Homo sapiens: one gene and its partners. The gene in region 4 interacts genetically with the main gene of each other region. Each region holds a gene or a part of one and is shown on either strand. Other genes may lie near its edges.

Region 1 (3,996 bases), on a different chromosome or scaffold from region 4:
TTGAATCTAAACTTATACCTCCTACATGATCCAGGGCACTAGGCAAAGAAATCAACTCAAATATTGCCCCTGAGATCTGGAAGGCACCTCTGGCCCATCCCTCCCAGACACTGTGGTTACAGGTAAGACAATCAGGCCAGGATTTTATTCAGTACCAGACTGATCTTACAATTTCCTCCTGCCCTTTACCCACCCAGAAATAGGATTTGTATGGACTCAGCTAGGCTGAGCTTGTGTGAATAGTGAGCTTGTCCACACGCTAGCTGATGGATGACTTCGATTTCTGCTCCTGCACTAGACGTGGGCAGTATTTCCTTGGAGCCCTTGGTCTGATTATCCTCCTTCCAGTGATAGAAACACTTTCCTTGCTATTCTGATCCAAATCCAAAGAGGGTGACCTAGTGGATAAGAGAGGGACATGTGCGTCAGCAGGCAGACTCCTGTCCTCACCCCTGCCTCCCTTCACTCAGCATCTAGGATGACAGGTTGTCCCTGGGAGCTGGGAGGAGACTGGAGCTCACCTCCAGGAAACAGACTCTGGACACTCTCCTAGAGTCACTGAGGATCCCAAAAAAGAGAATGTCAACTCACTTTTCCTCATGGTATTGGAGGAAGAGAGGGGAACCCCCAGGACGTAAGAGAAGGGCATTCCAGGCAAACGGAATGGTGCGAGAGAAGGCATGAGGCAGCTCATGTGTCTGGGGAATTCTAAGAGCCCATTATGGGAGCCTGGGAGACAGGAGGCAAGGGGAGGAGTCAGAACATGTATAGTCTTTTTTTTTTCTGAGATGGAGTCTCGCTCTGTCACCAGGCTGGAGTGCAGTGGCGCAATCTCGGCTAACTGCAACCTCTGCCTCCCGGGTTCAAGCGATTCTTCTACCTCAGCCTCCCGAGTAGCTGGGACTACAGGCATGCCTGGCTATTTTTTGCATTTTTAGTAGAGATGAGGCTACCACCATGCCTGGCTATTTTTTGTATTTTTAGTAGAGATGGAGTTTGACCATATTGGCCAGGCTGGTCTCGAACTCCTGACCTCATGATCCACCCGCCTCAGCCTCCCAAAGTGTTGGGATACAGGCATGAGCCACCACGCTTGGCCTACATGTAGAGTCTTGAAAGCCAGGCAGAAAACTTTAGACTCCATGCTGAAGGCATTGAGGAGCAGGAATTTTAAGAGAAGAAGATACAAGAATCTTTCCTGCCGGGGCACAGTTGTGCAAGACACAGAACAAAGCCTTGGGCCCCAGGGATGACCCTGACCCTGGTAAGACAGCCAGTTGTCCTGGTTGCACCTGGGGAGGAAGGGGGAGGGAACTGACCTGGGGCCCTTCCCACAGCAACCCACAGCCACATCCTACCCCTTTTCCTATTCCCCCTCACCGTGTCTTTGCTATCTTCCACTCCACTAGGGAACCAGACCATCTTCCAAAATCTGAGAAAGAATTGGAGGTGGGGGAGTTTGGGCCACAAGACCTGGGAAAGTCCTGCAAGTGTCCCCAGTAAGCCAATAGAAGGTCTTCCCAGAGCCCCTGCTGTTACTCCCTGCAGTGACCTCCCCTCACCCCCACACAGAGAATGTCTGGGGACACCTCCATCACCTTATCACTTAGAGCATCTGAAGTCCACACCAGGTCAGAGAGCTTCCGCAGTAGCATCTCCAGCTGCATCCAGGAGCCCTGGTCGCTGGCATTCCTGGGATAGATGAAGCATTGTGTGTGGTTTGGTTCCCCACGTCCATCTCAAAGCCCTGGACTTGGGGCCTGCTTCATCTTGGGAAGGGGAGCAGAAACTGATGGAACTGTGGGGCAGGCCTGGCCTTCCTGCTCCCGCCCTCTCCCCAGCACCCACCTGAAAACCACGGGGTATTGGTCGATGTCGTTGCCAAGGCTGGAGCCCTGCGGGATCTGTGGGCGCCCCAACAGCACACAAGTCCCACAATAGAAATCAAAATGGCTCACCGAGAGCCTGGGAATCCCTTTAAACAGCTTCCTCCACAATTTCCCAAGCTCGCTCCCTGAGTTCATGCCCTGGAAACAGCAAGAGGGAGATTGGGGGCTGGGCCCAGGGGAGAGAAAACAGAGCTGGGTGGGTGAGATCTCCATCCAGAGGCTGTGAAGACAGGGCCAAGGGCAGGGATTTGGGCGGAAAGTGGGAGATGGGTGAGGCCCGGAAAGCATGGGGGATATGGCCGGGCCCAGTGTTGACCACTGACCAACCACCAGAGCACAGTGTCAGAGGTCATAGACTCTCTTGTCCTCATCAGGTACCCCATAGTCTTCCTGGAGCACGCATCAAGCCAGTTCCATTCGTCGGCTGTGTGGTGGCAGGAGGAGCAGTTGAGGGTCTCAGAAGGGCAGCCACACTTCCCGGAACTGAACCAAGGGCAGTCGCAATGCTGTGGTACCAAGTACATTCGTTTTTCCTGGGGTGCTGATTCAGGTGTCAGATCCAGATAGGGGGTCATCAGCCAGAGGATGAGCACCCAAAAGACCCACAGGACAAAAATCTGCCAGCGCTTCATGTCTGGCCCAGGCGGTGGCTCCCGTGGTGGGCCGTAGACTGGCTTCTCTACCTGTAAGGATGAGGGGCTGAGGCCACAGACAGCACCAGCTTCCCTCTGTCCTGTCGGCCTCCACAACTCCCCATCCCACCACCTTCCACCTCCTTCCAACCCCTCCTCTCCTGCCTCACTATCCATTTGCTCACCCTCAAAACGGTCTCTGACTGGGCATGGGGTGGAAGAGGCCAGGGCAGAGAGACAGCATGTGGCTAGTCCTGAGAGGGGAAGGAATACCTCAGTGGGGGCCTTGCTGTCATCCCAGTTATATCATAGATCTCATCACAAAGTACACATTGTGACCTCCCTCCTTTAGCCTGCCTGAAAAAAGCCACCACCCTACCCTTTCTCTGACACCGAAATGACCTCCACTGGATGTAAGATTCATGAGGACAGGGGCTGACCTAGTCTCTCTTCTTCACCTCTGCAGCTCTAAGACTTAGAATCATTTAATAAATATTTATGGGATAAATAAACAGGGGTTGAGAGGGAACTTTTTTTTTTTTTTTTGAGATGGAGTTTTTGCTCTGTTGTCCAGGCTGGAGTGCAGTGGCATGATCTTGGCTCACTGCAACTTCCGCCTGCCTGGTTCAAGCGATTCTCATGCCTCAGCCTCCCAAGTAGCTGGGACTACAGGCATGCGCCACCACGCCTGGCTAATTTTTATATTTTTAGTGGAGACAGGGTTTCGCCATATTGGCCAGGCTGGTCTCAAACTCCTGACCTCAAGTGATCCGCCCACCTCAGCCTCCCAAAGTGCTGGAATTACAGGCGTGAACCACCATGCCCAGCCGGGAACTTTATTTTTAAATTATTATTATTATTATTATTATTATTATTATTATTATTATTATTTTGAGACGGAGTTTCACTCTTGTCGCCCCAGCTGGAGTGCAGAGGCACGATCTCGGCTCACTGCACCCTCTACCTCCCGGGTTTAAGTGATTCTCTTGCCTCGGTTTCCCAAGTAGCTGGGATTACAGGTGCCCGCCACCACGCCTGGCTAATTTTTTTGTATTTTTAGTAGAGACGGGGTTTCCCCATGTTGGTCAGACTGATCTCGAACTTCTGACCTCAGGTGATCCGCCCGCCTTGGCCTCCCAAAGTGTTGGGATTACAGGCATGAGCCACTGCACCCCGCCCCAGCCTGGAACTTTAAATATACTTGTGTGTGATGCCCTCTCTGGAGTTGTGTGACATCAACTCAATCCTCTCTTGTAGTCTCTAGACCCCATATCCAACAGCCTACTGAATTGCCACTTAGATGGCTCAGAGACATCTCACCTGAATAAGCCTGAGACTGAACCCAGGATTTTCCCTGTAAACCAACCCTTCCCAAAACTTCTCTGTCTCTTTTGTTTTGTTTGAGACAGAGTCTTGCTCTGTCACCCAGGCTGGAGTGCAGTGGCGCAATCTCAGCTCACTGCAACTTCTGCCTC
Region 2 (3,500 bases), on a different chromosome or scaffold from region 4:
GAAAAATTTTTTTTGAGTATTAGAGAATAAAAGCCAAGTTATGAAGAAAGGAACATAGATATTCCAGAAAACAGTAGTCATCTTCGCTCCTATGATTGAGTGCCAAATTTAGCTCTGAGCTTCCGGGCAGCCAGGGCAAGGGAGGGATATGGTACCCGAATGGCTCTCATCTAGTTAAAGGAAATAAACCATTTGTTTAAGAGAGGACTTTGTTCTTCAGCACTTGGTGCCAAGGGGGAAGTTCTGTTGGATCCTGTAGACACAGTAGGAGAGAGGAGTGGAATATTACTTCACAGAGGTTAAGGGCTTAGGCTGCAGGTGCAGGCAGTCTTGGAATTTAATCTTGGTTCTGCCACTTACTGGCTGCCAACCTAAAGTTTGTTTGCTTTCCCCTTTGTGCCTCAGTCTCCTTATCTGTAAAGTGGGCTAGTGGTGGCTGCAAGCTATAGAAGTGAGGCATGTCCACTGTATAGCACAGCACCTGGCACACAGCAGATGCCCAGTGAATAACAGCCCTCACTGGAACCCCTGGGTGCTCACAGACATTATGGCCTCTGTCCATGGCTCAGGTGCGCAGGGTGAGGGGAGCTCTGTGTCTTGGGTTGGGATGGGGGTGTCAGCAGGGAAATGAGCTGAGCAGAGGGTTTGAGTCAGAACAGTAGCCCCCGGTTTTCCCAGCTGCCCAGCAGTGAAGGCAACCTGACATGTGGCATCCATCTCCCCACAGTGCTCCAGCTTTTCTGCAGCTCACCCAAGGCTGCTCTCCGCTATGCTGCTGTTCGTACCCTCAATAAGGTAAGAGTCCAGCTTGGGGGTTGGAGGAAGCTGTCTGATCCAACTGGAGGTGTGTCCTAGCCTCTGACCTGGCTGGGAAGGATAATAGCCCTGGTCACAGTTAGTTTCTTCTAGATGGTGAGATGATCTCATCCAAAGGACTTCTGACTGGGCCAAACCATCAAATGTAGTGACAGCATTGGGTTCCTGCCCTCTCTGTCACTGTCCTCCCAAAACAGGTTGCCATGAAGCATCCGTCAGCTGTGACAGCTTGTAATCTGGATCTGGAGAACCTGGTCACAGATTCAAACCGCAGCATTGCCACGCTGGCCATCACCACCCTCCTTAAGACGGGCAGCGAGAGCAGCATCGACCGCCTCATGAAGCAGATCTCCTCCTTCATGTCAGAAATCTCGGATGAATTCAAGGTACCTGCTACCCCCAGGACACCCACGGCCCCCAGAGGAAGGAGCTCTGTCCCTGCTCTCTGTGGCCACAGCCTTCCTGCCAGGACTGACCTGAGGGGCTGGTCAGCCTTGAGGACTCAGAGGAGGCCAGCAGTTTGCTCTGCAGAGACTTGGCCTTCCGAGAAATGTGCGTAGTCCTGCCTCCAGGCCTCCATCCATATCGTCCCCTTGTACTGAAAGAACAGTAGTTTCCAGGCCAGTTAAGGGTTCATTGATTTGTTGTCCAAGTATTTCTTGAGCACTTGCTGTCTGCTATGTAGAGTGACAAAAGGGGAACATAGCAGTGAACAAAGCAGGTGACTGCCCTCCTGGAGCTTCCTTTCTAGGGATGGGAGAGGAACAGTAAACAGGTAAAGAAAGGAGTAGACGAGATCATCTCAGGCATGGGTACTGCAGTCAAGAGTGTAGAAATACAGCAGGGATGATCCTAGGAAGAGCACAGTCTGGGAAGGCCCTTCTGGAGGGTGACATTTGAGCTCAAACCTGAATCAGTGCAAAGAACCAGGAGGAAAGGCAGGAGCAAGTCAAGGAGAGAGAAGGCCAGTGGGTGGAAGAGCTGTGGGGCCAGTGCAGGTGACAAAGTCAGAATAGACAGGGCTCAATCATGTAAGGCCCATGGTCAGGTAAAGAGTTTTAATTGCAAGGAAGACATTGGAAAGGTGTTCTTTTGGGGCAGGAGGAAGGATGTGAATATTTTTTGAGCTTATATTTTGAAATAATTCATAGGAAGTTACAAAGAAATATACTGAGAAGTCCTATGCACCCCTCCATCAACCCTCTCCTACAGTGCCAGCATCCTACACTAGCACAGGACAATGTCAACCAGGAAAGTGACACTGGCATGACCCATAGAGCTCATTCAGATTTCACCAGCTACACAGGCAACTCCTGTGTGTATATATGTGAAGTTCTATGCAAGATGTCATGTGGAGACTTTCAAAATTGCCACCACAGTGAAGACACTCAACTATCCATCTCCACAAGACTCTTGTTACCTCTTCATAGTCAGGCCCATTCCTACCTCTCTATTCCCTAACCCCTGGCAGCCATTAATTTGTTCTCAATTTCTGTAATTCTGTTATTTCACAATTGTTAATTGATAGAACAATGAAGTATGTCACCGGAGAGTTTTAATCAGAGCAAACAATAATATGAATAATATATTGTGGTAAATTCTATAGTGTGGATTATGCAAAGTAGGCAGCAGTCTACTCTGCCTGTGGGTTACAAGAATGCTTTGCAGGCTGAAATGACACAGTGAGATTTGCATATTAGATCCTTCTGGGTCTGGGCACGGTGGCTCATGCTTGTAGTCTCAGTGCTTTGGGAGGCCAAGGAGGGAGGATCACTTGAGGCCTGAATTTTGAGACCAGTCTGGGCAATGTAGCAAGACCTCATCTCTACAAATTTTTTTTTTTTTTTTTGAGTTGGAGTCTCGCTCTGTTGCTCAGGCTGGAGTGCAGTGGTGTGACCTCAGCTCACTGCAAGCTCCGCCTCCTGGGTTCACGCCATTCTTCTGCCTCAGCCTCCTGAGTAGCTGAGACTAGAGGCACCCGCCACCATGCCCAGCTAATTTTTTGTATTTTTTAGTAGAGACGGTGTTTCACCATGTTAGCCAGGATGGTCTCGATCTCCTGACCTCATGATCAACCCGCCTTGGCCTCCCAAAGTGCTGGGATTACAGACGTGAGCCACCGCACTCGGCCTACAGAAAATTTTTTTAAAAATTAGCCATGTGTGGTGATGCGCACCTGTAGTCCCAGCTACTCTGGAGGCTGAGGTGTGAGGATCACTTGAACCCAGGAGTTCGAGGCTGCAGTGAGCCATGATCATGCCACTGCACTCCAGCCTGGGTGACAGAGTGAGACCTTGTCTGAAAAAAAAAAAAATTGGCTGGGCGCGGTGGCTTATGCCTGTAATCACAGCACTTGGGAGGCTGAGGTCGGCAGATCACTTGAGATCAGCAGTTTGAGATCAGCCTGGCCAACATGGTGAAACCCTGTCTCTACTAAAAAAATTAAAAAATTAGCTGGTGTAGTGGCTCACACCTGTAGTCCCAGCCACTCCGGAGGCTGAGGTAGGAGAGTCGCTTGACCTGGCCTGGAGGTGGAGGTTGCAGTAAGCCGAGATCGTGCCACTGCACTCCAGACAGAGCGAGACTCCGTCTCAAAAAAAAAAAAAAAAAAAAAGAGTCCTTCTGGAGCAGAGTGGAGGGGTGACTGGGTAAAGAGACTGTTGGAGTAATTCAGAAGGAGAGGA
Region 3 (3,500 bases), on a different chromosome or scaffold from region 4:
TCTCGGTTCACTGCAACCTCTGCCTCCCGGGTTCAAGTGATTCTCCCACCTGAGCCTCCCGAGTAGCTGGGATTACAGGTGCACGCCACCTTGTCTGGCTAATTTTTGTATTTTTAGTAGAGACAGGGTTTCACCGTGTTGGTCAGGCTGGTCTCAAACGCCTGACCTCAGGTGATCTGCCCGACTTGGCCTCCCAAAGTGCTGGGATTACAGGTGTGAGCCACCGCACCTGGCCTCCAGCCTCTTTTCTTTTTTTTTTTTGAGACAAGTCTAACTCTGTCACCCAGGCTGGAGAGCAGCGGCATGATCATGGCTCACTGCTGCCTCAACCTCAGAGGCTCAAGTCATTGTCCCCACCTCAGCCTCCCTAGTAGACTGGACTACAGGCATGTGCCACCACACCCAGCTAATTTTTCATCAGCCACCTTTTCTAACCATCTGTCTGCACTGACTTCCCAGGTTCTGCATCATTATTGGTTTACTGAGACAATGCACTTCACCCGTCCTTCAATCCCAAAGTAGCACAGAATATCAGGAGTTCTTTGAGCCCCTAAGTGCCCTACTTTCCCAGGGTCAGGGGACCCTGACAAGCAAGGTCCCCACATCTTTCTGTGGTTGGATAGGGATATAAAATTTCTCACACATGTTAAATCAAGATACTTTGGCCAGGCACGGTGGCTCACACCTGTAATCCCAGCACTTTGGGAGGCTGAGGTGTACAGATCACTTGAGGTCAGGAGTTTGAGACAAGCCTGGTCAACATGGTGAAACTCCCATCTCTACTAAAAAAAAAAAAACTTTGGGAGGCCGAGGTGGGTGGATCATGAGGTCAGGAGTTTGAGACCAGCCTGGCCAACATGGTGAAACCCCGTCTCTACTAAAAATGCAAAAATTAGGTGGGTGTGGTGGCACACAGCAGTAGTCCCAGCTACTCAGGAGGCTGAGGCAGGAGAATTGCTTGAACCTGGGAGGCAGAGGTTACAGTGAGCTGAGATCATGCCACCGCACTCCAACCAGGGCAACAGATCAAGACTCCATCTTGGGGAAAAAAAAAAAAATTAGCCAGGCTTGGTGGTGGATGCCTGTATTCCCAGCTTCTTGGGAGACTGAAGCAGGAGGATCGCTTGAACCCAGGAGGCAGAGGTTGCAGTGAGTTGAGATTGTGCCACTGTACTCCAGCCTGGGCAACAGAAACAATACTCCGTCTCAAAAAAAAAAAAAAAAAAAAAAAATCAAGACACCAAACACACACAACTAATTAGCTCTATAAATTGAATTAAAAGAAAATCCATACTGACTTGCTTTCCCATCTGTCCATATTTGTCTATCCAAATGATTAAGGGCTAGAGAAAATACAGATGATGATGGCTGAGATGGGATAAAACTATAAATTGACTTGGTTCCATTTACCTCCCAGAATCAGCATACAGTGACAAAGTAGAGAGAAAAGGTCTGGGCACCACAAACTTGTACTTGTGCTAGAAATGTAGGTGCCTTTTCATTTGCCCAGCAGGGCTAGTTTAACAGCCAGGGTATCTTCTGGGACTCTTCCCCAAATCTTGCTCTACCGCTGACTAGCTATGTGATCTTGGGCAAGTTTCTCAACCTTTCTGTGCCTTTCTTCCTTTACTTATAAATAAGGATAACAGAATTTGCTTCATAGAGTTAGTCTGAGGATTCAGTAAGTAGATACGTGTAATCTTAGAACAGTGTCTGGCACACAGTAAAACTCTATCTTTGCTATTGTTGTTTTTGTTATAACTGTATAGATGTTAGCTATTATTACTATCCACAAGAATGGGACATATCAATTATATATATTACTGGCCTAGTAATTATATATACTTAGAATCCCTGATCAATAAAATAAATTGTAATAGAAATTTTTATTCCTCAAACACATTTTTGTTCCTCAAACACATTTTTAAATAAACATGTCTTGGGAAAGCCAAAGAAAAAAAAATCATACCTATATCCAAATATGTTATATTAAAACCTTGTTCCTTGGCAATTTCACTAAGCAGCTGGATGTAATCTGTATTTGGAATACTAAGGAGGCTTCTTTTCAGTAAGTTGATCTTTTCACCAGGAGAATTCCTCAAGGAATGCCAAGTACATCCTAAAGAATGTCCTACTACATTTGTCTGAAAAACAGAGATGAAGATTTAGACTCTTGACTAGGACTGGGTTCCAACACCCGTACCAGTATCATTAAAAGTACTTATTAAGCACTCACATTTAATATGTTATAAAGCATGTTTAAATGGATAACATTTGGTTAATTTTCCAATTTAAACAAGACAACATTAAAAAGTACACATTTAACAATACTATATGTTTTTAAGAAGCACTTGCAATAATATACTGAAAGCATTTTGTATTTTGTATAGTACAAATGTTTCTCAGTCAAGTTTTCTGATGGTCACATTAAGAGGTACAAGATATCTGGAAGCACCATAAGTAAATCCACAAATAATTAAATCTGCCTAATGGAGCAATTTGCAGATTAAAATATAGAACAATTTTCATATCTTTGGTTTTTTTTGTATTAAATACCAATCACTATAACTGACAGCTATCAAACAGGAAAAAAAACAGAAAAAAAAACTAAAAAAAACATGAAATGTGCGCGTTGGGTTTGAGGAACAAGTCATTCAAATAAATGACAGGATGTCAAAAAGTTCTTATCAGACTTCTATCCCAGAACCCAACTGAGTATTTTTTTCCTTTTTCTTTCTGCTTTTCCTCTTTCCTTTATCCTCCCCTATATCCTTCCCTTTTCATCTCTGTCCTTAGAATGCCTTATATTTCCATATTAGTTTATGGTTCTCAAATTGCTTTCATATGCCATTAATAAAAACAACTACTTTCTGAAGTAAGTAGGGTTACTACTCTTAATATTGTTTTATTAATGAGCACGACAGAGGGGAGGCAATTTCCAAAAGATTTTAGAGATGGCATGATATGGAATTAAGTAATTTATTAGATTTACCAAATAAAAATTTACATTATAGAAACTTTAAAATACTGTTTTTAAATAAAGAACACTATTTACATGGTTAAAAATATACATGCACTAAGAACAAATATATAATGAAGAGTACAGTCTCTTTTCCTTACCACCCATTCCCTGAAGACCTCTGTTCTATTTCTTAGACATACTGTTAAACATTTTTCAGTATCTTCCCATAAATGTTCTATGCATATGCAAGCACACACAATCTTTTAAAGCAAATGATAACTTACTCCTCTACATCTTGTTCATTTTTCTTTTATCAGTGCACATATATGCACTGTATTTACCTTACGGATCTCCAACTGTGAGCTTTAGGTTGTTTCTAGTTTCTTGCTTTTACTAGCAATAAACACTCTTTTGCACTTGAATGAGTTTCTCTGTAGAATTATTTCTAGAAGTGGAACTGCTAAGTCAAAGAACATGTACACTTTTAATTTTGATAAATACTTCCAAACTGATTTCTGAACCAATTTATACTCCTACC
Region 4 (3,500 bases):
AAACATCAATCAGCTACAGCCAAGTTTCAAACTTGATGTATATTAAATACTCAGATATTATACTTGTAATATGCACGTATCTTGGATTTACTTCAAAAGCTATTCCTGATCACACATATGTAACAAGAGGCTTCCAAATTGAGGGTGGGCGCCTGGGAGGGGTGTTTCTGTTGCTAAGGGCATACCTCAGTGTTTCCTGCAGTGGGATGCTCAATGCGCCTCAGCAGTGCCATCACTCTTTTCTGAAGTGCTGCTCTTCCTAAGCAAATACAACAGCAAATCAAGTTACTGCACTTAGAGCCCTGCCTGCCAATGGAGAACCTGATAAGCTCCACCCAAAAGGAGTAGGAAGAGCAGAGCAAATGCTTCAAATGATAAAGCCAAAAACTTCCTTTCACTAACCTCACAGGAAAGGTACTTATCTTGGACTCTACAATGTCCACAGAATAAAATAGCTATTCCCACCTACAATTTACTCAAAACATACGCCAATGTTTGTAAAACTTCACTATCTACAACTTAGGCAGAGTAAATTACATAATCATAACTGATAGTAACATCTACTGCCAGTTATTTTTAAAATGTATAGCATATTAACAACTCAGTGGAAGACTAACAATTTATTTCAAATGCTTTTTATTTTCATCTTACTTTGTTCAGAAAAGGATTTCAAGTAAGCTACTTGAATTTCCCCTGTAAACTTACAAAGTAGTGACCTTAAATACATTCTCAAAATCAGATGCCATGTGCTTTGAGGCAGACTGAGTAAAAAAAACCACTATTCACATTTACCTGTTGACATCATATTGCTGACAGAGGCAAACTCCATGAATGTGTTATAGTTGGGCAAGAGGTTATGCACTGACACTTCATCCACCCCACACCGGATATCTGCTTCCTCACAGAGGTGGCGGAAACAGGACATGGCAACCAGAACAGCTTCAGTGTCAGGGTTCCACAGAAACATGTACAGGGCCACTTCTAGTTTGGTCTGGGCTTGTCGGCAAATCGGGGGGGTTCCGCTGCATCCTGCTGCACTATCCTGAGAGTCAAGGGTGGAAGACATATATTTGCAACTTGGGTAATTTTATGTATAAAATCTAACAATGCAATAAACTGTGTGTGTGTGTGTGTGTGTGTGTGTGTGTGTGTGTGTGTCTCCGCATACAATAACTCACAAGAGCTTTTTCCTTTAATCATTATAGGAATTTTTCAAACCCCAAAATATCTTGTCCAAATGAGAAATGAGATTATCTGGACCAACATAATGCTACCATCTGTTCAATTTCAAATCAAATAGATATTATCCTATTCCAGATTCCAGAAATGTAAACTGATTCTAACATGGACAGGTAAACACCATAACGTAAATCTACTGCAGTAACAATATAATGTACCTCCCAGTCAATTAGAAATGACAAAAAAAGAGGAAGTAACAGGAAATTCTATCTACTTGCTATAGGGAAGTAATAAAATAAGTACACTGCAGCACTCATTGAAACAAGGGCATAAACAAGAACTAAATATTGCTGTAGAAGATACATTTGATTCTGAATTACTTATTCTCCAAACACGAAATGGAGAAAATAATTGATAAAATAAATGCAAATTCTACAAGTAAAACAGACATTAGTAAATATCATACTGCTTAGGTGTTTCTTCCTTAACAAGGTTGCATTAAAAATTAGGAATGAAAAAAGTTTTGGTTTGGAAAATAAACTCTTCTGTAATGATGTGATATTTTCACTTGAAATATGATTTATATTTAAAAGAAATTATACACACAAACACAAATCACAGAAACACTTATCTTTAACATGAAGCAAAATACTTTGTTTTTATCCCTGTAAATCTGTACCTTTGTTAGCCGGTACGAATTCTATACTTCTGTGGTATGAATGGGTTTTTTATGGAGTGGAGGTTTATAATAATTATAATTATCAGATATAGCTTGTAAGTGTCAAGTGCTATTTACACATCCTTTTATTTAACCCTCTTTAACAACTCTGGGGCAGGAACTATTACTGTCCCCATTTTAAAGTTGAGGAACTGAGGAACAAGGATGTTAAGAACTTGCCCAAAGTTCCACAAAGAGCAGTAATAGAACTAGATTCTAAGCAGTTTTTCACTATTACACTATATTACCTAGATGAAATTTACCAAATTTCATTCAGAAAACAAACAGAGCACATAAAATGATACAGAAAAAGTACAGAAGAAGCTGACCATAGAGGAGTTCCCTTTTCCCTTCCGGAGAGAGGCTCCAGGAGTACGTAGTAATTCTTCATGATCCATGGACATTTGACTGGTATTTCCACTAGAAGGAATATCACATCCTACCCCGTAAAAAAGGAGAAAGTGACAGGAACTTCTATCTGCCTGCTAGAAAAAAATAAATAAATAAGCTTTACTGAAGCACTGACAACCAAGAGGAATAAACACTTATTTGAGTTGTCTTCCTGTTTGAGACTCTCCTAAAAAACCTCTCCTCTCAATCTCTATGCCCCAACTTGAAGGAGATTCACTAGAAACCCATTAGAACAAACAAGGTTTACTTAATTCTTTAAAATTTCTTTCAGTTTCCCATTCTCTAAATCATCAGAAACAGTAGATTCTACAAATATAAATTAAGTCTGACATAAACATGAGTAAAACATCAACAATATAAATCTACTGTATGAAAACTATAATTTGATCTCAATGACAAAGATTTTTTTTCCATAAGATTTTATACTGTGCCATGTTGGGATAACCAGAAATTGGCTCTTGAGATTAAGTTCTTCTGGACCAGTAATTAACTCTGGTATGTATATACACCAAGTATGTCACAAGAGTGACTATGCCTACCAGGGCACTATGAATTCATTACTGGATTCCTCATACTCACATTCTGGAGATTATACCATAGGCGAGGCCATGAAAGTCTGAAGTCTAATCTCTTTCTGTATCTTTGGAATAATGCCAAATTCCACTACATTAACATATCAAATAAGTCACATGTGAATAAACCCACTTCACCATTAGTCTATTTCTAAAGAGACAATTTATTAATAACAAGCTGTAAATACTGAAAAGGATATGAGTTTCATACATTTAAGGTCTTTCACAGCTATGCTTCTAGTACCAGATAAAAACTCATTAAATCAAGTACTCCGAAAACTAGGCCATAACAGAATTCCTAAATTGATTAATTACAGAAACTATATGTTAAAAGAAATTTAAGGCTCTTCTCTATCTTCCACAACCTCACCATGTTTCAATAGTTCAGAATCAAAACATTTCACTCCACCCCAATGAAAAAGTCTCCTGATATTTTCAAGAGGTGAAACCCTTATTGGAGGAATCGAAATAAATCTAGATTGAGGACCCTCAACTGTTTCCCTTTTGCTTCTTGATAGATAATTCTCTGGACTAGTCTAGCCATGAGATCTAGGTCTTTACGATTTCTCAGAGCTATGATTCTAGAACTGGACAAAAACCCATTAAATCAAGTACTCCCA

The links.
Region 1: changes in NF1 (region 4) and C20orf173 together harm fitness more than expected from each alone (negative genetic interaction), as found in Homo sapiens cells (one large-scale study listed by BioGRID).
Region 2: changes in NF1 (region 4) and COPG1 together harm fitness more than expected from each alone (negative genetic interaction), as found in Homo sapiens cells (one large-scale study listed by BioGRID).
Region 3: changes in NF1 (region 4) and PRKRA together harm fitness more than expected from each alone (negative genetic interaction), as found in Homo sapiens cells (one large-scale study listed by BioGRID).

Annotation. Positions count from the first base shown.
Region 1 is NC_000020.11:35,526,853-35,530,848, forward strand, and holds C20orf173 (uncharacterized protein C20orf173 precursor), read right to left. Parts: upstream 2,801-3,996; 5' UTR 2,707-2,800; intron 2,589-2,706; exon of another isoform or gene 2,573-2,588; 5' UTR 2,522-2,572; coding exon 2,213-2,521; intron 2,028-2,212; coding exon 1,849-2,027; intron 1,693-1,848; coding exon 1,599-1,692; intron 1,433-1,598; coding exon 1,406-1,432; 3' UTR 1,381-1,405; intron 399-1,380; coding exon of another isoform or gene 369-398; 3' UTR 127-368; downstream 1-126.
Region 2 is NC_000003.12:129,259,606-129,263,105, forward strand, and holds part of COPG1 (coatomer subunit gamma-1), read left to right. Parts: intron 1-727; coding exon 728-795; intron 796-1,013; coding exon 1,014-1,202; intron 1,203-3,500. UniProt on the Homo sapiens protein: The coatomer is a cytosolic protein complex that binds to dilysine motifs and reversibly associates with Golgi non-clathrin-coated vesicles, which further mediate biosynthetic protein transport from the ER, via the Golgi up to the trans Golgi network.
Region 3 is NC_000002.12:178,434,176-178,437,675, forward strand, and holds part of PRKRA (interferon-inducible double-stranded RNA-dependent protein kinase activator A), read right to left. Parts: intron 2,145-3,500; coding exon 1,970-2,144; intron 1-1,969. UniProt on the Homo sapiens protein: Activates EIF2AK2/PKR in the absence of double-stranded RNA (dsRNA), leading to phosphorylation of EIF2S1/EFI2-alpha and inhibition of translation and induction of apoptosis.
Region 4 is NC_000017.11:31,223,977-31,227,476, reverse strand, and holds part of NF1 (neurofibromin), read right to left. Parts: intron 2,383-3,500; coding exon 2,227-2,382; intron 1,043-2,226; coding exon 793-1,042; intron 260-792; coding exon 186-259; intron 1-185. UniProt on the Homo sapiens protein: Stimulates the GTPase activity of Ras. NF1 shows greater affinity for Ras GAP, but lower specific activity. May be a regulator of Ras activity.